Linked DNA regions of Homo sapiens. The protein of the gene in region 7 interacts with the protein of the main gene of each other region in a pairwise test. Each region holds a gene or a part of one and is shown on either strand. Other genes may lie near its edges. The genes, in order: VPS54, ZNF343, GLYR1, NGLY1, ZNF829, TRIM23 and UBQLN1.

Region 1 (3,500 bases), on a different chromosome or scaffold from region 7:
CTTTCCAGGAATCTGGGAAGTAAAAGCCGCTTTCATAATAATATTATTAATAAGATGCTATTTATCTATTTTACTCTCATTCTCTCATGATTGAACAGTGGGGATTTTTAGATGACTTGTGATATCATTATTCTGAAGGCTAATAGAATATGTGTTTGGGTAGTCTTGTGTGTGAGTGAATGGACACCACTTTATCTTGCCCTTTTGATTCTTATGTACCTGCTGTTCCTGCCATTTCGGAATCTGAAGGATGCAAGTAGGATAAAAAGCAAATCAAAGTTCTTTGCTATTAAGGTTATTCCAAATATGATCTTGGACAGACAGTATACACTGAGTAAACTTTCAGACTTTCAAGTTACGAAATTTTGGCTTTCCCACTAAGACGTGAATTGAAAAACTTAGGGAAAGTAAACAGTGAAAGATAGATCAAGCGTGATTGGGGCTGACTAAATGATATTTTTCTGAAGATACTCTCCCAGTATAACTGCGAATTCTTTGGGGAACACTGCTTCATTTAATGACATATTGGGAATGAAAAACAAACAAGAAATGAATGTTGAAATGAATTAACATAAAAATACTTCTGCATAGGATTTCTACCATCCTTAGAATCATCTCTCCTACTCCTGCCAGCCCCTTAGAATATCAACTGTTTTGGAAATCCGAAAATTTTGTTGAGTTGTTTTCTAAACCCTGAATAATTTGTTAGATAACTGCAGGTTAGACCACTATGGGGGGTCTTGGTCACAGCACATGGTCACATTTTCCTGAAAAAAAATTTAAAATTCTACTAATTGGTAAATATCCTATGAAAGTTTAGATTATCTTTTCACATCTTAATTTATAAAGTACTCCTTATAAAATAGAAAATCATAATGTCTTTGAACAAAGTCTAATAATTTCTATAAATCATTACCTTAGATAACAGCTTGTCAAATAAGCTATCCATTATCGCTACAAGCTTAGCTGATATTTCAGCTATGTGATCATGGTAGTCCTGCAATGAGAAATGATAATTGTATTTTTAAGTCCCTGGGACACATTTTTAAAATACTTAACAATTAAGGATCTAAACTTATGAAACGCCAATAGAAAATATATGAAAAAGTACCTTAGTGATATGATCAAAATGCCTAAGCATGCTATATTGCTTAGGTGGTAGTCGAGCTTCAAAATGAGCCCGGATCACAGGAATGTAGTGCACAATTAACTGCAAACATCGTGAAGAAAGAGCTGAAGATCCAGGGAGTAGATATATAATGGAGAAATAAAAAAAAAAAAGGTATTAGTTGATTTTAATTACAAATCAAATCAAATAAAAAACATCACTTATAAAGAACCAGTTTATTTCATAAACGAAGAGCCCTATGGCAGAAGGCAACATATTTCATTTTGTCTAATAATTTGATACTGAATAATGTAATGAACATGCTGCTTTCACAAAGGACTCAAGTTGTGAGTATTATCAGTATCACAATAACAAGACAACTGATTCTCTTATGACATTCAGATAGCTTTCACCCCCAAATACTTTATACACATTATATCTTAATATTTTCTAGAGTGGTGTAACTTCCAAGTAACTTATACTTGGAGGGGAAATGCATCGTAACCTTTTCCCCATGGTTAGTTTTTTTCAGTGATGAGTATACATAAAAGAGTAAGTAGCATTTATTTTTAGAGTAATGCCACTTTGGTTAGAGCCATGAAAACATGAGGTATAAAAAAACATGATGAGAACAGTGACATCACTGTTAACACTTCAGCAAGTGAATTAAACGCAAGAATCCATACCCAAATTTTTTGTAGTTATCGTTTTTAGTCCAACAACTTGCAGTGCACCAGCTCCAAGAACTAACTGGCAACTTCTTGAATTGAAGTACTAACAAAAGAAGGAGAAAAAAACCCCAAAATTTACTAAAAACTGTTCTTTATATCCTGGCAATGTGCTATTATAAAAATACATTCCCCTTTCCTCTCATTCAATGGCCAAATGAATTATCTAGTAGAAGCAATTAGTATCTATTTATTTAATGAAAAAGAAATGAGAAGGGGAGATTCTAAATGATAATATTTACTGATAAGAAAAAAGTTGAAAAATTCTAAAAATCAGTTCGCAGAAATTAATCTTTAATTTGCATGTACAAAACAAATTCGGTTTCAGTCATTCTTGTTGGGAAGTCCTATTTTCAAAAGTTATAAAAATCTGTCTTGGCTAAAACATGACAACTCAAGTCAGAACATAATTAACAGATTAGAGGTTTGAAAAAAATAATAAAGCATTTCCTCCGTACTGGTAGTTTAAAATATCTCAATATGAAATGGCTGAATAAAATCATCACATTTTCATTTTATATCAATGGTTCTGAAAGAATGATGCAAGAAAAATCTCTAACCTTAGTGAGATGAATTTTGTAAAGTTCAGTGAATTCCTTCCATGCACATTTGAAGCCAGTCCAGGTTTTTTGACCTAAGTGGCCTCAGTCATGTTCAGCACCTAACGAACAAATCATCTCCTGTCTCCAATGTCATTAACAACTCTATGGGTGAATGAGGATCACTAACTGTGGAGTAAGAAGGAAGCAGGCAGCCTGTTTCCAATAACATGTTGTGATTCAACCACAATCAAATGTTATAAAACTAATGTCTTAAAGTTAATTTGACCTTGAAATGTCTTTGAGTTAAGATTAGTCACACCCTAATGTATTAATTCCTCGAAAAATTTTTCCATAATGGAGTGAAGTCATACATACCTTCAATAAATCTGACAGACGAGTAAGCATGTCAGTAGTAACAGATGGGATGTTATCCACACACTGGCAATATTCAAGGATAATTCTTATTAACAGCAATACGGTTCTACAAGAAAAGAAAAATGGCCCAATAGGAAATCAAAACAAGAAAAATCAAAAGGATTTGGCATATAAAAATCAAATTACTTAATGGCACAAAGGATCTCTGAGAATATAATGACCTTGGTAACTATGTTAAAGTATGCATTTTACCTACTAGTACAGCAGGTTCTTGACTAACACAAGACAAGAGAGGTGTCTAGAATGCAAAATTTAAAGAGGCTCTTACTCTGTGCAATTGCAGGATCAGCTTGCACAACACTGAGAATGAGTGGCTCCTTAAATTCTGTACAACAGGCATAATACTCTCTGTATGGCATTCTTATTAAGTAAGGGAGTCGCTTCAGTAAGACAGGTATTGCATTCATTAGCCAATTCAGAAACACTGACAAAAAGCCTATCCAGTGTTTCTGATTACCAACATAGTAGGTCCTCCATCATAACTAATGAATTGATGAAGAAAACCTAGTCCAGATTTTCTTAGTGAGATGGAAAAAAAAAAAATCTATAATGGCTTCTAAGGAAAACATGTCTCCTAAGAATTTTATTGGTAGGTCACAAAAGGTTCTCTGGCTGGGCGCGGTGGCTCACACCTGTAATCCCAGCACTTTGGGAGGTCAAGGCAGGCAGATCACTGGAGGTCGGGAG
Region 2 (3,500 bases), on a different chromosome or scaffold from region 7:
TGCAACCTCCACTTTCCAGGCTCAAGCCATCCTCCCATCTCAGCCTCCTGAGTAGCTGGGACCACAGGTGTGCAGCACCACGCCCAGATAATTTTTCTATTTTTAGTAGAGACGGGGTTTTGTCATGTTGTCCAGGCTGAGTTCAAGTGATCCATCACTTCAGCCTCCCAAAGTGCTGGGATTACAGGCGTGAGCCACCGCATGTGGCCTCACACTCTAATTATTGAGTTTGGACAGAGTTGGAGGTAGGTAATAAGAAATGGCCCTCTTCCGGGCGCGGTGGCTCACGCCTGTAATCCCAGCACTTTGGGAGGCCGAGGTGGGCGGATCACGAGGTCAGGAGATCGAGACCATCCCGGCTAAAACGGTGAAACCCCGTCTCTACTAAAAATACAAAAAATTAGCCGGGCGTAGTGGCGGGCACCTGTAGTCCCAGCTACTTGGGAGGCTGAGGCAGGAGAATGGCGTGAACCTGGGAGGCGGAGCTTGCAGTGAGCCGAGATCCCGCCACTGCACTCCAGCCTGGGCGACAGAGCGAGACTCCGTCTCAAAAAAAAAAAAAAAAAAAAAAAAAAAGAAAAAGAAATGGCCCTCTTGAGTAGGTGAGTGGCATGATCCTTATTTTTCCTTCAGAGGAGCAACTTAAAAGGCAGGGTGGAAGGTGAACTAGAATGTGGAGAAAAGATGAAAATTTGGGTAGCACAACAGTGAGATGAGGGGAAAATAATAAAGGGGTATTCCAAGGTAGAATTGAGAGGACTCCATCACTAATTAGAAGGATGAGAATTTCAGGAAGAACAAGGAGGCAAGAAAGACTCAGAGCTCCGGCTGGTGACCAGGGATGGAGACACGGTCATTAACAGAAATCATCAACAGGTAAAGAGAAAAGGGAGTGGGAGAATTGGCCTTGCTGAATTCCAGATACTTCTCCCTCTTATAGTTCTTACCTGAATTGTTAAGTGTGTACAGTTTGAACTAAGCAATAGCAATTTTGTAGAAGAAATGGGCAGATTTTAAAACAATCTAGAGTTAAGACATTAAGGAATTACTGTCGATTTTGTTGAATGTGGTAATATTATGGTTACATTTTTAACAAATAGTCCTTCTCTGTTGGAAATGCATAGGATAGTATTTATAGGTAAAATTATGTGATGTCTGGGATTTCCTTCCAAATACTCCAGCAGCAAAAACAAGAAAATGAGGAGGTGGGGGGCTCAATGAAACAGGGATTATAGAATGTTGATAACTGAGGAAGCTCTAAATCCTAATTCTACCCAACCCGGTCATATTACACAAGTAAATTTCTTAACCTCTTAACATGCCACTTCTTCTTCTATCAATTCAGAGTTTTGATTCCTAACTTTCAAATTGTTGAGAGTTTAAAATATTGTGGAGACTATAAACCCAGTTGCCTGGCACAGAACAATGGCCCAATAAATGCTAATTACCATCATTTTTTATTTCACAGTAGCTGACAAATCCCTGGGAATCCAGCAGCCAAGATGAAATATGGCTGGGGCAAGGACGGTGATAACCTGAATGAGAGTACCAGTCTGGGGTAATATTCCCTGTGGAGATCCTTGCCCTTAAAATCACCCCAGTATTGTAGAAAAACAAGCAAGGCCTTGAGCCTCAATTGGAACACTTCAGGGTACAAGATGTCAGACGGGCAAAGGAAATACAGCCATGGTTTCGAGCAGAAAAGACGCTATGGGAATGTGAAAGGTAAGTGGTACCTACCTGATAGGAAGTTCTCGGGAGCACAGAAGTCTTTCCTTTCTCAAGAGATCGTCCTCTCCCAGCAGGCAGGGATTGGAGAAGGTGGACCTGAGGATGAAACAGGCAGTGTGAGATTCAGGATTGTCTCCTACCACCCAGATATGGAGGCTAGAAATCCCCAAGTTTAAAATGAGACGAGCCAAGATGGCCGAATAGGAACAGCTCCAGTCTACAGCTCCGAGCGCGAGCGACGCGGAAGACAGGTGTTTTCTGCATTTCCAACTGAGGTACCGGGTTTATCTCACTGGGGAGTGTCAGAAAGTGGGTGCAGGACAGTGGGTGCAGAGCACCGAGTGTTAGCCGAAGCAGGGTGAGGCACTGCCTCACCCGGGAAGTGCAAGGGGTCAGGGAATTCCTTTCCTAGTCAAAGAAAGGGGTGAGAGAGGGCACCTGGAAAATTGGGTCACTCCCACCCTAATACTGCGCTTTTCCAATGGTCTTAGCAAACGGCACACCAAGAGATTATATCCCGCGCCTGGCTCAGTGGGTCCTACGCCCATGGACCCTCGCTCATTGCTAGCACAGCAGTCTGAGATCAAACTGCAAGGCGGCAGCGAGGCTGGGGGAGGGGCACCCACCATTGCTGAGGCTTGAGTAGGTAAACAAAGCGTCCAGGAAGCTCGAACTGGGTGAAGCCCACTGCAGCTCAAGGAGGCCTGCCTGCCTGCCTCTGTAGACTCCACCTCTGGGGGCAGGGCATTGCCAAACAAAAGGCAGCAGAATCCTCTGCAGACTTAAATGTCCCTGTCTGACAGCTTTGAAGAGAGTATTGGTTCTCCCAGCACGCAGCTGGAGATCTGAGAATGGACAGACTGCCTCCTCAGGTGGGTCCCTGACCCCTGAGTAGCCTAACTGGGAGGCACCCCCCAGTAGGGGCAGACTGACACCTCACATGGACGGGTACTCCTCTGAGACAAAACTTCCAGAGGAACGATCAGGCAGCAACATTTGCTGTTCACCAATATCCACTGTTCTGCAGCCTCCGCTGCTGATACCCAGTCAAACAGGGTTTGGAGTGGACCTCCAGCAAACTCCAACAGATCTGCAGCTGAAGGTCCTGACTGTTAGAAAGAAAACTAACAAACAGAAAGGACATCCACACCAAAACCCCATCTGTATGTCACTATCATCAAAGACCAAAGGTACATAAAACCACAAAGATGGGGAAAAAACAGAGCAGAAAAACTGGAAACTCTTAAAAATCAGAGTGCCTCTCCTCCTCCAAAGGAATGCAGCTCCTCACTAGCAACGGAACAAAGCTGGATGGAGAATGACTTTGACAAGTTGAGAGAAGAAGGCTTCAGACGATCAAACTACTCTGAGCTAAAGGAGGAAGTTCGAACCCATGGCAAAGAAGTTAAAAACCTTGAAAAAAAATTAGACGAATGCCTAACTAGAATAACCAATGCAGAGAAGTCCTTAAAAGACCTGATGGAGCTGAAAACCATGGCACGAGAACTACGTGACGAATGCACAAGCCTCAGTAGCCGACTTGATCAACTGGAAGAAAGGGTATCAGTGATGGAAGATCAAATGAATGAAATGAAGCAAGAAGAGAAGTTAGAGAAAAAAGAATAAAAAGAAACAAACAAAGCCTCCAAGAAATATGGGACTATGTGAAAAGACCAAATCTACGTCTGATTGGTGTATCTGAAAGTGATGGGGAGAATGGAACCAAGTTGGAAAACACTCTGCAGGATATTATCCAGGAGAACTTCCCC
Region 3 (3,500 bases), on a different chromosome or scaffold from region 7:
CCGGAATTTTTTTGTTTTGTTTTTTTGAGACAGAGTCTTGCTCTGTTGCCCAGGCTGGAGTGCAGTGGCGCAATCTCAGCTCACTGCAAACTCTGCCTCCCGGGTTCATGCCATTCTCCTGCATCAGCCTCCTCAGTAGCTGGGACTACAGGCAACCGCCACCATGCCTGGCTAATTTTTTTTTTTTTTTTTGAGACGGAGTCTTGCTCTGTTGCCCAGGCTGGAGTGCAGTGGCACGATCACAGCTCACTGCAAGCTCCGCCTCCTGGGTTCATGCCGCTCTCCTGCCTCAGCCTCCCAAGTAGCTGGGACTACAGGTGCCCGCCACCGCGTCCGGCTAATTTTTTTGTATTTTTAGTAGAGATGGGGTTTCACCGTGTTAGCCAGGATGGTCTCGATCTCCTGACCTCGTGATCCGCCCACCTCGGCCTCCCAAAGTGCTGGGATTACAGGCGTGAGCCACCGCGCCCGGACTGGAATTTCTTAGAGACCAACAACTAGAACCAGATGTGACCATGTCAATGGCTCGGCTGAACACACACCTCCCCTGTGGATGCTGCCCTCCCCTCAGAACATATGTGGGTCCCAAAGTCCCCACTCCCTTATTTGGGCCAGATGCTCGGGGAGGAGGGATGCTTTGCCAGTGTCAAATGCAGACAGCTGCTCAAACCCCAATGCCAGGCGGGCGGCCTGGGTTGCTTCTCATCATAAGGCTGGCAGCTCCAGGACTTGATGCCCATCCCAGCCATGCAGCGACTGCCCATGGCTGTTCAGACTAGCTGCGGTTTGAAGGTGGAGCACGGGATAGGCTAGTCCCAAGGCTACTCGCCTCTCCTCTTCCCTCTCTGGCTTTGGCTCTAGAGTAACTTAACTGCCCACTCTTGTAAGCCTGGGTCTTGGGCTCTGATAGAAAAGATGCTGGAGAGCCAGCCCAAGGAAGGCTGCTACCTGGGCCAGCTCAGTGACGGTGTCAGCGTCCACTGTTGACATGTCCACGTAGCACTTCCCAGGGCGGATCCCTTGCAGCACACCACTGGGGCCCAGCACCAGCTGTGGGGACACAAGGGAGAAGCAATAGCCCAGGCTCCCGGGCAGATGCTCAGGAGCCCTACAGACCTCAGATCAGAATCCTGCTGCTGTTTTGGCTCATTTCCTGATTTCTATCAGCTGAAAAGGGAAGAACAATGAAATAAGCAAGGGATAGAAAAGTACTTCCCGCATGCTCCCATTTATCTTTAAAAAGAATCTATGTGAGTGTGTGCATTTCTTTTTATTTAAAAAAAAAAAAAAACAAACCCCATTTAAAAGAATAAACCTCAGCATTTACTTTGGGGACTTCTTTGGATTTACTTGGATTAGGCTAGTCACCAGTTTAATAAGATGACTACCACACTTGAACTTCTAAAATATACAAATACAGTGACAGCTAAACATAGAAGCTTGGCACCTGGACCAAAGGCACATTCAGTTCCAAAGCTTCTAGTTCAACAAGAACACATGAAGCCTGTTCAAGACACATTTCAGCACAGACTTCAAGGGCCCTAGTAGTGTTCATTCTTTGATCTGAATTAAAGGAAGTCTGTATTCAATTAATGCAAACACCCTTCACAATGGGAGATGGCCCCTGATGGGAAATTCAGCCCCCCACATGTGGACACTCACTTGGTGTGCAGGGGAGGAGGGGAAGAGGCCAGCCAGCAATCCTGGCTGTGACCCGGAGTTGCTGAGGGGAGGGAGGGGGTCCTTACGTCCTTGGCCGCCTTGGGATCCGACACGCAGGCGAAAGTGATGTCGCAGGTTGAGACGACTTCAGCGGGGGTTCTTCCCAGACGGGCCCCCTCCTGGATGAACAAATCACACTGCAAAAGTCACAGATCCTAACGTGAGCTGCAGGCAGTGCACAACAAACATGCCAGCCAGGCCAGAGAATTGCTGACCAGGCCTCCTGGCGGCCTACCAAGGCAGGAGGCTGAGGCCGGGAGCCTGGGTCATGGAGATAGGAGCCCAACTTTTGGGGAAGTGCACGGGGCCTTTTACTGGCCATCTTCAGTTTTTGCATGACGAGTGCCTAGGATGATGAACTGCTTCACAAGTGTCTGCTGAAGGTATGCTGTTTCAAGAATGGGGTATGAACAGTAGCACCTCTCCCCAGCCCCCGCTGTGCTGTCCTGGCTGTGGCCCTGAGCTATCAACACTCTGCTGGGAATGTGGGGATGTCGCTGGAAGCCTTCCACCTGGTGGCCATTCGTTTTTGGGTTGTTTCTCAACACTGTTGTCAGGTTAATAAGACTTCTGGAAGTGCCTAAAAACACTACCATTTTGGCTTTTTTTTTTTGAGACAAGGTTTTGCTCTGTCACCCAGGCTGGAGCACAGTGGTGCAATCATGGCTCACTGCAGCCTCAACCTCCTGGACTCAAGTGATCCTCCTGCCTCAGCCTCCTGAATAGCTGGGACTATAGGTGCATGCCCCATGTGTGATTTTTTTTTTTTTCTGTAGAGACAGGGTTTCACCATGTTGCCCAGGCTGGATGGGCCTACTATTTTCTATCAGACTTTTAATGTTGTTTATGATTCACATTTATCTATATTGTTGTCTTTCATAATTCTGGCATAATTATGGTTTATAGTGGTTGACTATGGAAAACTTCACTGAGAGATATACTGTGATTTACCTAATGGCTGACCTGTAGTTTGACACTTAGCCCACTTTCAATTGTAAAATCACATCACCAAACATCTTTACGTACAAAACTTCTCTATGTTTTAAATTCAGGTCTCCACAAATAGAATAAAACAGGTTCTAAAAGTTTTAAGGCTCTCAACAAATGTAGACAGATGACTTCCCAATGAGACTATGTCACTTCATAAAGATCACCAGCAAGCTCTCCTATTATGCCAGTACCAAGTATGTAATTTAAAAACTACAAATAAGTGCCCATAAATACATGTAAAATTCTTCCTACCTGATCATTTAACCAGTCAAAAAAGGCAACTGTTTCATTTTTTTTTTTTGAGACAGAGTCTCGCTGTCGCCCAGGATGGAGTGCAGTGGCACGATCTCAGCTCACTGCAAGCTCTGCCTCCCAGGTTCACGCCATTCTCCTGCCTCAGCCTCCCGAGTAGCTGGGACTACAGGCGCCCGCCACTGTGCCCGGCTAATTTTTCGTATTTTTAGTAGAGACGGGGTTTCACCGAGGTCTCGATCTCCTGACCTCGTTATCCCCCAGTCTCTGCCTTCCAAAGTGCTGGGATTATAGGCATGAGCCACCGCACCCGGCCTTGTTTGATATATTTTAATTACTCCTGATTACCGAATATTTTTTATGCCTTTGTTTCCTCTTTTGTGAGCCATTTTTTTGTCCTTTTTCTTTTCTGAGACAGGGTCTTGCTGCTGCCTAGGTGGGAATGCAGTGGTATGATCACAGCTCACTGCAGCCTCTACCTCCTGGGCCCAAGAGATCTTCTGGCCTCAGCCTCCCAAGTAGCTGGGACTATAGTA
Region 4 (3,500 bases), on a different chromosome or scaffold from region 7:
AACTCCGTCTCAAAAAGAAGAAAAAACAAAAATTAGCCAGGAGAGATGGTGCATGCCTTTATTTCCAGAAACTCAGGAGGCTGAGGCACGAGAATCACTTCAACCTGGGAGGCAGAGGTTGCAGTGAGCCAAGATTTTGCCACTGTACTACAGCCTGGACAGAATGAGACTCTGTCTCAAAAAAAGAAAAAAACAAAACAAAAGAAAAGAAGTTTAAACAAGATTAAGAAAATGTGAATGGCTTTCCTGAGCCAGGACACTAACAAAATACTACTTAGCCCAGGAAAGAGATATTTTGTAAAATAAAATGTTTGCAAGCTTTTTTGCAGATTGGTTAACTATGTGCATTTTAAACTATAATACTGCAATTAAAAAGATAAAGTAGGAAATCTTAAAAGATATATTCTAACACTGTAATTGGAAAACTCCTAAGAAAAGGTGTTAAAAACCAAGAAAGATGTTAAGTGAGCTTCTGTAACTGTACCAACCTTAACTGCAAAACTGATGAAGACCTAAGGTATTCAAAATGGAATGCACATGATCTCAGGGAGGGGCATAAAAATCCATTGAGGTGCTTGTTAGACTTACAGAAATATCACAAGAATTTTTCTGACAGTAAAAACTTAGGAGAAGAATATGTAAGGACCTTGGTCAAAAGAGATTTTTGTAAACAGGATAATTTCCTATCAAATGGAATCATTTCAGTTTATCAAGAATGCCTGTAAGTTTGACTTTAGTTCTTCACAAGTATATATGGTGTATATTAATAATAAAATTTCACTAATTTGCTAGCATCCACTATCATTAAATTAATGCATTCTTAATTACCTTAAACCTAAAGAAGCTTTTTTATTGAATTAAGGTATTGATAATGGTTGTGCTGTTGGAAATAACCCCCACAGTGAAAGGCAGCAGGTACAATTTAGATCAGAAGTATTAATGCAGTAGAGGAAATCTGACAATTTTTTAAAGAGCTGAAGAAATTTGGATGTTTTAGAGTTATAAGAACTAAGAACAAAATATGGGGCATAAATTCAGGAATAAATCATAACACATTCCAAAGCTTTTGCTGTTTCAACACTTTGAAAGAAACAGTTAAAGAAGGTTTAATTCTAACATTACCGTTGAAGCAGATGGTGGATCTGATGACTGCCCTTGACGGTTCCTTGTGTGCTGGTTTAACCCACTGGGATTTGAAGATGGTGTTGTAGGAAGCTGGGTACTGGCTGCAGGTTGCTGAGATGACTTTACTTTGTGGCTCTTATTTGAGCCATCCAGTCTGCTACTTCTCTCTATGGCAATCAGGTCACGAATTTTTTGCAGCTGCTCCACTGAAGCTTTTTTAGGAAAGATGAGATGTGTTTCTCCCTGGAATTTATAAAATTAAAAAAAATGTGAACCTTTGCTTTATGCAGTCATTCTTTTGTGCACACACACACAGAAATGTATAATGAAACCAATAATATAGAATGCATGTTTCTAAAATCATACTGTTTTCTTACCATTATGGTTCTTTTTAAATACAGCCTAAGGTAAATAATGCCTAAACATAAACCAGAAAATTAAAAAAAAAATTATCTCCTTTTTGGCATTTAATCCTTAGCCTATTTAATGTGGTTCAAAGGACTTTCAGGAAAAAATATTTGATCTTCTAGAAACAATAAGTCAGAAGGCCTCATAAGGGTTGCAAAAATGCATATTCCTATCCTCTCTGCAATAGTATATGATACTACTATTCTCTATGAAATTCCCTATGAAATAATAATGACAGTAGAGATACAGCCACACAAAAGAATCCAGGGTCACATAAAACCAACAAGAAGTTATCTAACAACCTTTGAATCTTGTTAATCTGAGTCTTTAAAGAATAGCTACATGATTAGAAGCCTGTGTATGGGGTCAACTAATTTTTCCACGATAACGAAAAGTACACCCTGATAGTCAATCCAAAACTATGGATGGTTAACAGTAATAGGAAGGTAATCCGAACAAAACAAAAGAAATAAAAATCATGTATTTCAGTAGTGACTCATTTAAAGAATACCTATAAATATGCTAAGAATGCTTTAAAATAAAATGCTACAACAAATTCTATAATGTAAAACAGTAAATTACTCAAAACAAGAAAAAAGGTGAAATGAAATGACAATGTATTTGATCAAATTTCCAGGTATTGAAAAGAAACAATGTTAAAAACAGTAATTTCTCCAACTGCAAACAAGATAAAAAGTTGCAGCTGGGCATGGTGGCTCACGCCTGTAATCCCAGCACTTTGGGAGGCTCACATGGGCAGATTACCTGAGGTCAGGGGTTCGAGACCAGCCTGGTCAACATGGCAAAACCCTGTCTCTACCAAAAATACAAAAATAAGCTGGGCATGGTGGCGGGTGCCTGTAATCCCAGCTACTTGGGAGGCTGAGGCAGGAGAATTGCTTGAACCTGGGAGGCAGAGGTGAGCTGAGATCGTGCCACTGCACTCCAGCCTAGGTGACAGAGCAGGACTCAGTCTCAAAAAAAAAAAAAAAAAAAAGTTGCAACAGTCTGTAGTACACAGACCTGCAGATCATGAGCATTTAAATTAAACTCCAAAATCGACAATATTACTGTATTTCCCTGGTGATGGCAGACCTACAGGAATCAACTGAACAAGACATTACTCAATGACATGAAAGTCAATTCCATCTGAATCCTTTTTAAAAAGCTGGATTAGACCAGCAAGCTCCACGTATGATTCATAATTGCTATAAAAAAGACAACTACAATGTATTGTCTTTGTGTGTTCTAAGTACTGTGCTAGGCATTTTTTTCTCTGAGGCAGGGTCTCCCTCTGTCACCCAGGCTGGAGTGCAGTGGAGTGATCAAAGCTATAACCTCAAACTCTTGGGCTCAAGCGATCTTCCATCCTCAGCCTCCCAGCAGCTAGGACTACAGGTGCATGCCACCACACCTGGATGATTTTTATTTTTTGGAGAGACAGGGGTCTCACTCTTTTGCCCAGGCTGGTCTCAAACTCCTAACCTCAAATGATCCTCCCACCTCAGCCTCCCAAAGCAAAATGCTGGGCGTTTTAAATACATCATCTCAAGTAATACAACTACCCTGAAAAGTAGGTATTAGATTAATACTTTTTTTTTTTTTGGAGACAGAGTTTTGCTCTTGTTGCCCAGTCTGGAGTGCAGTGGTGTGATCTCGGCTCACTGCAACCTCCACCTCCCAGGTTCAAGCAATTCTCCTGCCTCAGTCTCCCAAGTAGCTGGGATTACAGGCATGCGCCACCACACCTGGGTAATTTTTGTATTTTTTAGTAGAGACAGGATTTCACCACGTTGGTCAGGCTGGTCTCAAACTCCTGACTTCAGGTGATCCGCCCACCACAGCCTCCCAAAAAGCTGGGATTATAGGCGTGAGCCACCATTCCCGGCCAATACTCACATGAAAATACAAAGGCTCAGGGAAGTTAACCTGCTTGAAGCCACAGAACAACTGGCAGAGCAGGGATT
Region 5 (3,500 bases), on a different chromosome or scaffold from region 7:
GGGCCTACTCTCAATTTTTAAATTGTATGTGTTTGGTACAGATGCAGAGAAAATCAGGATAAGAATAAGTCTAACTAAGTATTTTGTGTAAGGCCTTTCTATCTGAATTTCTTTTAAAGAGGACTGAGTCTTCCCTCTCCTGTGCCAAAGCCCAAATAGAATATCTGCTTCCCCTCTTGCATCAGTCTCTAGTTACACTTCTCATTTCTATAGAGAAGATTGTTGCCCAGTATTAACGGGAATAACTAGGGACATGTAGTATACTGTAGTAGACAATAAATTTTTATTTTTTTTGGGACAGAGTTTCACTCTTGTTTCCCAGGCTGGAGCACAATGGCATGATCTCGGCTCACCACAACCTCCACCTCCTGGGTTCAAGCGATTCTCCTGCCTCAGCCTCCCGAGTAGCTGGGATTACAGGCATGCGCCACTACGCCCGGCTAATTTTTGTATTTTTAGTAGAGACGGTGTTTCTCCATGCTGGTCAGGCTGGTCTTGAACTCCCAACCTCAGGTGATCTGCCCATCTCGGCCTCCCAAAGTGCTGGGATTACAGGCATGAGCCACTGTGCCCGGGGGACAATAAATTTTAAAAGAAATAAAATTTGTTTTCAGAACTTAATCTAATGTTTAATCAGGAAATATTTGAAACATCAAAATATTTGAAAATTAGAAGTAAAACAAGGATATACCACATTACCAATGTTATTTAACATTGTTTTATAGATATTAACCAAAACACTTACATAAGAAAAAAAATTAGGTTAAAAATTACAAAAGAGGGCATAAGATTATCGCTTTATAGATGATGTGACTGTGTAACTGAAAAACCAAATCTGCTTGTGATCAGCATTTTGAAATAAGCAGGATTCCATATGAAGCAAGCAAAAGAAAAACTTTTTCCTCATAATTTCTACTCTCAACCCTCTCTGTGGGTTAATTTTTTTGTTGCCCTGGATAAGAACTGGTATAGACTATAATTTTTATCACTCTTTGATGTCCTTTGATTGTTTTCAGTCAAAATCTAGTCTCATTTTACTAATTACAACCTCTAGTTCACTGTAATAATATGTGAGTTTCATTTAAAGCCTCTTCTCTGAGCTGAGAATTGCTTCAAGCTTGCAAAGTATGAAAAGGGACATAATTAAGCTTCTTGATTTCCTCGCCCTGAGCTTCTATTTCTCCTGCCTAAGTCAGTCTCTGGATCCTATGAGATTAGAGCAGGGGTAGGGAAGAGGAGGTAAGGAAAAGAAAAGTCTTTCTTGACTTGTTTTGGTGTTGATCTCTTTTGCCTTGATGGATGTTCAACACTCCTTTGTTAGGAGACACTATTAAGAGTCTCTCAGAGAAGCCCCTGCTGGAAACCTCTAATTGCATTTCCTGGGATATGCACAGCATGTCTTCTTGAAATGGCTACTTATGACATCTGTCATACACTTCTGCATTCTGTGATCCATTCCTTTGTTGAGGTCACTTTGTCCCTTTATTGGGTCCACATCTAGTCCAAAGAGGGAAATAGGTACTAATCTTTGTGCCCCCTAAGCTCCAGAGAATACAGCAAAAATTATTCCAAAGTATCTCATCATTCCACTTTGGACCCTGGAGTCTAAAGGGGCCCCCTTGCTTGTCCTAAGGTGAGGGAGAAGTACCCTCATTTCTCCTATCAATTGGGAATGTGTGTCCTTTTATAAACAAAATTTTTGGGACACTAACTGAGTGTCCTATAGTTTAACTGAATTCTGACACTACCCAGAGTTAACATAGACCCCATTGCTTAAGAGGCTCAGTCCCAGCTGGTCATGCCTATAATCCCAGGACTTTGGGAGGCCGAGATGGGAGGATCACTTGAGGTCAGGAGTTTGAGAACAGCCTGGACAACATGGTGAACCCACATCTCTACTAAAAATACAAAAATTAGCTGGATGTGGTGGTGTGTGCCTGTGGTCCCAGCTACTCAGGAGGCTGAGGCAGAAGCATTGCTTAAACCTGGGAGGCAGAGGTTGCAGGGAGCTGAGATCGCACCACTGCACTCCAGCCTGGGTGATGGAGTAGACTCAGTCTCAAAGAAAAAAAAAAAAGACTCAGTCCCACAAGACTGTACCTGCTTCAGACACCAGCCACAAGTCTAAGGCACTGCACTTCTGCCTAGCCAGCCAAAAATTTAGAGGTTCCCGTAACTCTCCTTCAGGTTCAATAATTCATTAGAATAACATATAGAACTCAGGAAAGCACTATACTTATGATGATAGTTTTACTTTTTTGTTGGTTTCTTTGTTTGTTGGTTTTGAGATGGCGTTTCACTCTGTTGTCCAGGCTGGAGTGCAACGGCACAATCTCGGCTCACTGCAACCTCCGCCTCCCGGGTTCAAGCAATTCTCCTGCCTTGGCCTTCTGAGTAGCTGGGATTACAGGCATGCGCCACGACACCTGGCTATTTTTTGTATTTTTAGTAAAGATGGGGTTTCTCCATGTTGGCTAGGCTGGTCACAAACTCCTGACCTCAGGTGATCCACCCCCCTTGGCTTCCCAAAGTGCTGGAATTACAGGCATGAGCTACCGCACCCGGCCTGATTATAGTTTTATTACAAAGGATACAACTAAGGAACAGCAAAATGGAAGAGATGCATAGGGCAAGGTATGGGGAAGGGCCTGCATATCTGGAAAAGGTCTTAAAAGTATTTTTGCCTAAGAAAATGTCTGAAATGAAAGATTCATTCAGTAGTATTTATATTGTGGAAATTTCTGCTACCATAAGGGTATAAAAGTTGAATTTGTTTATGTTAATAGGGAATAATTATGACAGTCTTATAAGAATTGTAATTTCCAAGAAACTTAAAGTATGCTGTTGTCTAAGTGATACTTTAAATTTATGTTTAACCCATTTCGCATTTTAAAAATTCAAGAAATGGGCCAGGCGTGGTGGCTCACGCCTGTCATCCCAGCACTTTGGGAGGCTGAGGCAGGTGGATCACTTGAGGTCAGGAGTTTGAGACCAGCCTGACCAGCATGGTGAAACCCTGTCTCTACTAAAAATACAAAAATTAGCTGGGTGTGGTGACCGGCGCCTGTAATCCCAGCTACTCGGGAGGCTGAAGGAGGAGAATCGCTTGAACCCGGGAGGTGGAGGTTGCAGTGAGCCGAGATTGTGCCACTGCACTCCAACCTGGGCAACAAGAGCGAAACTCCGTCTCAAAAAAAAAAAAAATTTTTCAAGAAATGTTAAAAGACATGAAAAATGGCAGGGCATTGTCCCACTAACCCAATCCTACTCCCCTTAGGTGGCTACTCTTTTTGCTGTTTCTCTTAGCATTTTTCCTATATTTCTAATTAATATTCCTATATTGCTATTTTTTGATACATATTTTCCAGTGATTTCTAGGCAGGTAACTATGGATTGAGATTTCCCATACCACAGTCTTCATTTTTTGTCCATGCAATAGAATTATATCACAATTTTTCTTTTCTTTCTTTCTTTTTTTTTTTTTTGAGACAGAGTCTCAC
Region 6 (3,500 bases), on a different chromosome or scaffold from region 7:
AAAGTGAAGAAGAAAAAAAATCCATACATGTTCTGTGTGAGCCATTCCAATTCCATCTTCCACGATTTGTTCTCCTCCTTCAATGTGCTGCACAATTCCAACTAATTTTCTGGAATAATCTGAGATTTCCTCTGTGAAGGTCCGTATGCAGTGAGCCATATCTAAAATTGATGCTCGGATCTGATTAGCTTCTGGTTCCAATACTGAATGCTATAAAATGTACCATAATTAGAGAAAAGAACTCATAGTATTGACTAATAATATAAAAAACTATTTAAATCCCTATTAATACAAAAAAGCATCAGCCACAAGTGACTTTTATGACACAGAAAAATACTAATTTACTTTCACTCCTTTATAAGAAAACTGTACTGCAAAGAAGTAATTTAAAATTTGGAAGTCCGTTTATTGCTAAACAAAAAACCAAGAGACTATCTCTAAAATCATATCCTAAGTAAGAGCTAACAGACATAAATATTGTCAAAACAATCTGGTGCATTATGAAAACATGCAAGCAAACAGAATGTTTGTTTCCTGCTCGAAAGCTATTTTTTTGTGAAGAATCATGATGCCTCTTTGAAGTTTTTTTTTTTTTATAACATTCAGAAATTAAATCTCTCATTTATTTTCATGCTACCAAACCCAATCACTCATCACTTAACTCTTCTTCAATCCCTACTTTCAGAATAAAGAACCAGGTCAGTGAAAACGAATACTGAGCTGGTAAAGTAGCTACAGTGATCCAACTGATTAATAATTAAATTCATACCTTGTGACCCTGGTGTTTTCCATATTCTTTGCAGACACAGCACATGAGTGGGCTAGTTTGACAACCTTCTTCCAAGCAAACAAACTCAATGGCATGCACCTGGTGCTGAGAGCACATAGTTTTCTCATGAGGTTTATCAGCTAGAGGAACTCGCCTGTGCTTTGCTAATGTCTTTGTAGAATGAGTAACTTGAGAACACTCAGAGCACAAATGAGTTGCACACACAGTGCAATATACAGAGGCAAGGTGAGCTTCATCTTCATCACAACGAATGATGCTCTGATAAACAAAAAATTAATGCCTTAAAATTGAACCCAATCAGTATAACATGACGAATTTTTAAATATAGAATCCATAATCCTTTTTGCTTAACTGAACAATATTTACATATGAAAATATATTGGTCATTAAGAACAAAGGTCATTCAATACTCATCTGAGAAGCATTCATTTCTAGGGGTAAGAAGCTATTTCCAAGATTAACTGGCCAATATATGTTATGAATTTGAAGCCAAAAATAGAACTATTCTCATAGATTCATATTCGGTGCAAAGATCTCTTCCACCAAATCCCCTCACTTTACACAAAAGAAACTAAACCATAGAGAAGTCAAAAGTCTTTCTGTAAAACTACAAAAATCTGATATTAAATACATCCCCATAGCTTTAAATATTAGTTGTCATGATGATGTATAGGAAGGACAGAAGCACAAATGCTATTTAGAAAATGTAGGAGTATGCATCAGAATTAGCTGTAAGCTTTTAAAAACATAGCTGTCTGGAAGAGAAATTCTTATTTCAACAGGTTGTGGATGAACCCTAGACTTGTATATATTTTTCTAATTATACGCCATGTTATTTTAATAGCTCCACAGGTGAGTCTATTGCACAATCACGGCAGAAAACCACTGATTTAAGCAAATAAAAAAAAAAATAGGCCAGGCTCAGTGGCTAACATCTGTAATCCCAGCACTTTAAGAAGGCTGAGGCAGGTGATCACTTGAGGCCAGGAGTAAGAGACCAGCCTGGCCAACATGGGGAAAGTCCATCTCTACTAAACATCCAAAAATTAGTCAGGTGTGGTGGTACATGCCTCTAATACCAGCTACTCAGGTAGCTGAGGCACGAGAATCACTTGAAGCCAGGAAGTGGAGGCTGCAGGGAACTGAGATCACGCCACTGCACTCCAGCAAGGGTGACAGAGTGAGACTCTGTCTTAAAAAATAACAATAAACAAATAAATAAAACCTATATGTAAGCATGTAAATATTATTTCTAGTTTTCAGGAATTACAAAAAATAACTAATTATGAAATAATTACTTTTATTTCAAGTAGATAAAAAATTACATGTCAGATAATCAAGAATGTTTTGAACACTTTTACTCAATATTAAAAGGCCATAATTGGAAGGGGAGAAATTTAGTATAAATTTTTTCAAAAATAAAAATGTTTAAATACATCAATGGTGTCATTCTTTATCACATTAAATAAAAAATGAATCCAAAGTGGAAGAGTTTTGTTTGCAATTATGAGAAATAAACACATGTACCATAAAAATTCAGGTCTTCTGTTTCCCAGACCTGACAAATAAATAAATTATAAACTATAATGTCAACATTAGCTAACAGTAATGTCTTTTGAAATAAAGATTAAAGATTTAGCACAGAAAGAACTGCATAACTTTTAGAAAACAGAGTGTTGCAGTTTGAAATTCATTTCACTGATTCACTTTAGTATAAAGAAATCATCATCTAATGAAAGAGAAGTGAAAGCAATCCGACATTTTTTTTCCTTCATACAAAATATGTGGTTTGCAAGTTGATCACCAAAATCATTAACTGATATTTACTCCAAATATATTTTTACCCATAACAGCCTACGAAAGCCATGTCCTATAGTACATATGTGCAGCTATGCAAACACATAAGTGCTAAAAATATACTTTTACATTATTAAAATCCAGTGTTCATGGATTCTGATATTTACTAGACATCTACCTGTATGGATAAAGACAGTACATCTATACAAAGTTTAACCTTTTCTTGAAGCTATAACAGTAACAATTCCCTCAGAAGTTACTGCTATCTTTAAGGCATTTTCCCCTCTGTATTAAATGGCCTCTTACATCGAGTTTTTCTTTCTCTCATTGAGTTTTACTGTTGACTACTTTTGCATCCTCTTCTCTACTGTTGCTTACATATCTTTCTTACTATTCCATAATCTTCTTCCTCTTTTCACTTTATTCTTGGTAGAACTGAATTATGATAAGGAAAAAAAAGTTCACACATAAAGCATAGTTTAGGCATAGGATTTTCAAATAATTCTAGTTTTTTCTCTTGGGAATAGTGTTGGCCTTCAGAACTGTAATGTAATGAAAAGTTGTGTTTCTAGAAATTTACCTGCTGAAATAAATGAAGTAATATTGTGCTAATAATGGCATCTATTAAAAGAAAAATTCATGCTCGTAACAAATATTTCACCAAGTATGATCAATACCTCTCCAGATATCCCAATGGATTCTTCTGCAGCTCCATACTGACCAATAGGCCCATTCTGCAGTCGTTCCAAAAGCTCCAATAAAGCAAAATTTTTTTTCAATCCCCAGACACCTGAATCACCTAGAATAAATATAAAAACAAAAACTAAATCTAACAAAATGGACTATTAATCATTTTACCCATACCTCAAAAGTAATTTCTAATATAGTTCAGTAGTTAATGTCTAAATTTTTA
Region 7 (3,500 bases):
TTAACTGGAAATATCTGAAACAAGTAATGTACCTTGTTTTATTCTATCTTCCCCCAAGTGCCTCAGCTGGCACTTAAAAGGGAGGAAGGTAGAACATAAATAAAAAAAGGAAAAGGGAAGATACTGTCCACAAGAGGGATCTCCAGAAGAACAAAAACAAAAAAATGAGGCATATTCTCTCTCAATGAGAATGGTGGTTATGATAATGACATGCAATATCCTAAAAAATAAAAGCAATCATTTTCTTAGGCTTTTCCTTGAACAAACGTGAATATATGCCATTGAAAGAAAAATGGGAGTAACTGGCATTCATGAAGATATATTTTCTACTACACTGGCAGAATAAACATAAACATCAATACATGAACTATGTAACATGGCTTGCTTAGAAACCTCAACACACAAGTGGCAGGCACAGAGAAAATCTAGATCTGAAAAGGACCACTACATCTACCTGCCTACTACAAAACAGCTAATATTAGGTCCAAAAAAATAACACCGCAAAACAGCAACCAACTTGCCAGAGAAATGGAGCTGCTAGGTGAAAATCAGTCAGGCCTAGCACCAACAGTCCTCTGGGAAAAGTATTAAAATGATTTAAGACCTAAAAGATGTAAATCCATTTGAGAACACCAAGATTAGCATCTGGATTTCACCTCACTACTACCAGAGATGAGAAAAGTGGCATCTCCTAAACTTCAAATAAACGTTAAGAATTTAAAAATCAGGATCATTATTAGTATGATGTCATATACCTGAAAATAAGATTAAAATACACAAGGAGCATAACCAGAGCTAATAAATTCTTGTAGCTTCAAAAGACACATTTTATATCATTTTCCCCAGGCGGAGTAAAAAGTCAACTAACAAGGATTTACTGATAGCCTATTTATCTATCCAAAGTCTGGGGAGGAAATGATCCTTGCCCTCAAGAAGTTAACCGTATTTAAGAGCAATGTAAATGCTGGTAGAGAAAATTCGCCCCAATTCTTGCAAAGTGATCTTTTAGTTAATTTCAATACAATAACAAAAGCAGATGTCAGACAACCTTTCAGGAACATACAGTATTTATTTCAAAGTGACCAGTAAGTTCACAGTAAGTAAACTCATACAGGCTTAAGGTCAACAAACCTGCTTCTTTATTGGTTCCAAATACTTATCATCAACATATTAACGAGGTTATCACACATATCTTTTGGAATTCACTTCATTTCATCTTAAAAAAGCATGTCATCTTAAACGTATCCTTTCACAGATAATCATCTTATTAGATACTTCTTATAACTTACCTGAGTGCTTATACCACAAGTTTTTACACTCAAGAGTCTTTTTAAATATTTAAAAATCAAAAGAATAGAAAAACCACAAATTTTAATCTGCAGATAACAAGAACATTGTAAAAGTTTCTAAATTATCTGTAATAAAAGACATGCCAATCTAGTACTAGCAACATTTTGTTTTAGAGTAAAAAAATAGTATGTGAGTGCTCAAGTCACTTTACTAAAGTAAGATTATTACAAAATTGCTACGCATGTGCTTGTTAAAGTCAAATTTTAAAAGCAAGATGCACATTCAGTATTAGCCAAATACACACTTAAAATGGCTTATTATGGTAAATTGAAGCATTTAATACTAACAACTCAGTCTGATAAGTTTCATATGCATAAATCAATCTTCCATAAAATGTACCTCCAATATACAGAATCACAGACACAAAAATTCTTCTTAAAATTTGTTATTTCCAATTCCACAAATTTGGTGAGGGCATAAGTTATTACTGAGAATTATACACAAAGATACCTGAATCAATATAGTTTTAGAATTTAGAAAATAAAAACCATTCATTTGACTTAAAGCTTTTAAAATTTAAGGGATGAGATTAACTATAAAGTCTTCCAAATTCCTGACACACTACAGAAGCCATTTTTAACGAACAGCAAATATAAACTACAGATTATCAAGGTTTATTTCACATTCTCCGTGGTTTTTCAAGCCCTGTGGTATGGAACCTAGATAGTACCTAGGCAACTTGAGGGAGAAAGGGTTATCGGACGCAATTATCTCAAAATCTCTAAGGATGAGGCCCCAACCATCGGTACTGTCTATAAAGCTTCCCAAGTGATCCTGAGTGTTCAGCCAGCATTAAGATCCCCAATTTTCTTAGCTGTGGTCTCTTTAGAAACAAATTAGAAAAAGGAATACATTAATAAGGGACCTGTATACGATTTTCAGCAGGGGAATCAATAGTTGAAAGAAGGAGAACATTGTTCTGACAAATTCCCGTCTTTAATAAATGCTATTTTACAACTGCCATTCTGAGCATGACTATTATAATCTGAGTGATCTACTAAATAAAAGTATTTCAAATGTATTAACATTGCTCTTAATTGCTTTCAAGATTTACATTTCATTAAGTAGTTTATCTTCAAAAGAGTGGGCATTCCAGAACTCTGTACTTGTCTCCTAACTCAACATATGTAGAAACAAACTAAACCTGCACTTCTTTCTAGTCAATGAATGGCAGAGATAAAGTTGTTTTAATTACATATGAAGTATTAATTTACTGCAAAGAAACACACGGTCTAAAAAATTGGAGACACAGTTTACTTATTTTTCTAGTGTATTAAGATATCATACACAACACAAATGTGCCAAAATCACAATTACAAGATTAGGTTATTTTAATTCACACTGCACAGTCTTTTTCAATACAATTACAAACTCACCTGTGCAGCAAGGTCAGGATTCTGGCTTAGTGACTGCATCATGCTTCTCATGTAGGGGGCAGACAACATGTTTTGCATCAGTTGTGGGTTTTCAGTTATTTGTTGCAACAAGCTCTGCATTCCTGGTGTGTTGAACATACTAGCTGAAAGTTTGTTTTTAAAAAAGACATATTAAGGAAAAATACTTAAACAAAAGTTAAAGCTTTAAAATATAATATGCACTGTGTTTAATTTCACCAAGTACAAATGATTATACATATTATGTATCAACTGAACTACGAAAGAACTTTAAAACTAAAACATCTCTAAAAGTACATGCCCAACATATACCAGGAAAAGAGGACTGATGAGTTTAAACATTCTGCATTTACAGTAAAATCTTGTCTAATGAAGAGCTAGCTTCTGAAGTCAACTTAAGGCAAAAATTACGTATGGTCAAAATTACTGCTGAAAAATTCCATAAAGTGAAAAGGACTGAGCCAACTTTTCCTCCAAGACTGCAAAGAATTAATTAGAATCATATTCGGCACTTAATATTGCCCACCCTTATGAAAGAAGTAAGCCTTCATGCCCAAGGCAACAAAAGATGTAATGCCTCCACCCATTTTCACTGTGTACTGCCACTCACTGAGTAAAATGGTAGGCACATTTAACATTTGAAACCATAGAGCACAGTGACTCCAAGCAGTATCAGGAGCCTGATTACGTGGGTTCAAATCTAATCTAACCCATGTGATCTTGGGCAAGTTATCTAGCGTCTTCATACTTCAGGTT

The links.
Region 1: the proteins of UBQLN1 (region 7) and VPS54 interact in binary tests that used the Homo sapiens proteins (3 or more experiments, as listed by UniProt).
Region 2: the proteins of UBQLN1 (region 7) and ZNF343 interact in binary tests that used the Homo sapiens proteins (3 or more experiments, as listed by UniProt).
Region 3: the proteins of UBQLN1 (region 7) and GLYR1 interact in binary tests that used the Homo sapiens proteins (3 or more experiments, as listed by UniProt).
Region 4: the proteins of UBQLN1 (region 7) and NGLY1 interact in binary tests that used the Homo sapiens proteins (3 or more experiments, as listed by UniProt).
Region 5: the proteins of UBQLN1 (region 7) and ZNF829 interact in binary tests that used the Homo sapiens proteins (3 or more experiments, as listed by UniProt).
Region 6: the proteins of UBQLN1 (region 7) and TRIM23 interact in binary tests that used the Homo sapiens proteins (3 or more experiments, as listed by UniProt).

What each region holds. Positions count from the first base shown.
Region 1 is NC_000002.12:63,911,429-63,914,928, forward strand, and holds part of VPS54 (vacuolar protein sorting-associated protein 54), read right to left. Parts: intron 2,860-3,500; coding exon 2,754-2,859; intron 2,498-2,753; exon of another isoform or gene 2,397-2,497; intron 1,883-2,396; coding exon 1,795-1,882; intron 1,234-1,794; coding exon 1,112-1,233; intron 998-1,111; coding exon 917-997; intron 1-916. UniProt on the Homo sapiens protein: Acts as a component of the GARP complex that is involved in retrograde transport from early and late endosomes to the trans-Golgi network (TGN).
Region 2 is NC_000020.11:2,498,916-2,502,415, forward strand, and holds part of ZNF343 (zinc finger protein 343), read right to left. Parts: intron 1,828-3,500; 5' UTR 1,741-1,827; intron 1-1,740. UniProt on the Homo sapiens protein: May be involved in transcriptional regulation.
Region 3 is NC_000016.10:4,812,789-4,816,288, forward strand, and holds part of GLYR1 (cytokine-like nuclear factor N-PAC), read right to left. Parts: intron 1,860-3,500; coding exon 1,749-1,859; intron 1,168-1,748; exon of another isoform or gene 1,051-1,167; coding exon 949-1,050; intron 1-948. UniProt on the Homo sapiens protein: Cytokine-like nuclear factor with chromatin gene reader activity involved in chromatin modification and regulation of gene expression. Acts as a nucleosome-destabilizing factor that is recruited to genes during transcriptional activation.
Region 4 is NC_000003.12:25,762,944-25,766,443, forward strand, and holds part of NGLY1 (peptide-N(4)-(N-acetyl-beta-glucosaminyl)asparagine amidase), read right to left. Parts: intron 1,369-3,500; coding exon 1,123-1,368; intron 1-1,122. UniProt on the Homo sapiens protein: Specifically deglycosylates the denatured form of N-linked glycoproteins in the cytoplasm and assists their proteasome-mediated degradation. Cleaves the beta-aspartyl-glucosamine (GlcNAc) of the glycan and the amide side chain of Asn, converting Asn to Asp.
Region 5 is NC_000019.10:36,909,792-36,913,291, reverse strand, and holds part of ZNF829 (zinc finger protein 829), read left to right. Parts: intron 1-3,500. UniProt on the Homo sapiens protein: May be involved in transcriptional regulation.
Region 6 is NC_000005.10:65,610,834-65,614,333, forward strand, and holds part of TRIM23 (E3 ubiquitin-protein ligase TRIM23), read right to left. Parts: intron 3,387-3,500; coding exon 3,265-3,386; intron 3,023-3,264; exon of another isoform or gene 2,894-3,022; intron 1,049-2,893; coding exon 770-1,048; intron 211-769; coding exon 28-210; intron 1-27.
Region 7 is NC_000009.12:83,666,459-83,669,958, forward strand, and holds part of UBQLN1 (ubiquilin-1), read right to left. Parts: intron 2,870-3,500; coding exon 2,727-2,869; intron 2,174-2,726; coding exon of another isoform or gene 2,072-2,173; exon of another isoform or gene 1,050-2,071; intron 1-1,049. UniProt on the Homo sapiens protein: Plays an important role in the regulation of different protein degradation mechanisms and pathways including ubiquitin-proteasome system (UPS), autophagy and endoplasmic reticulum-associated protein degradation (ERAD) pathway.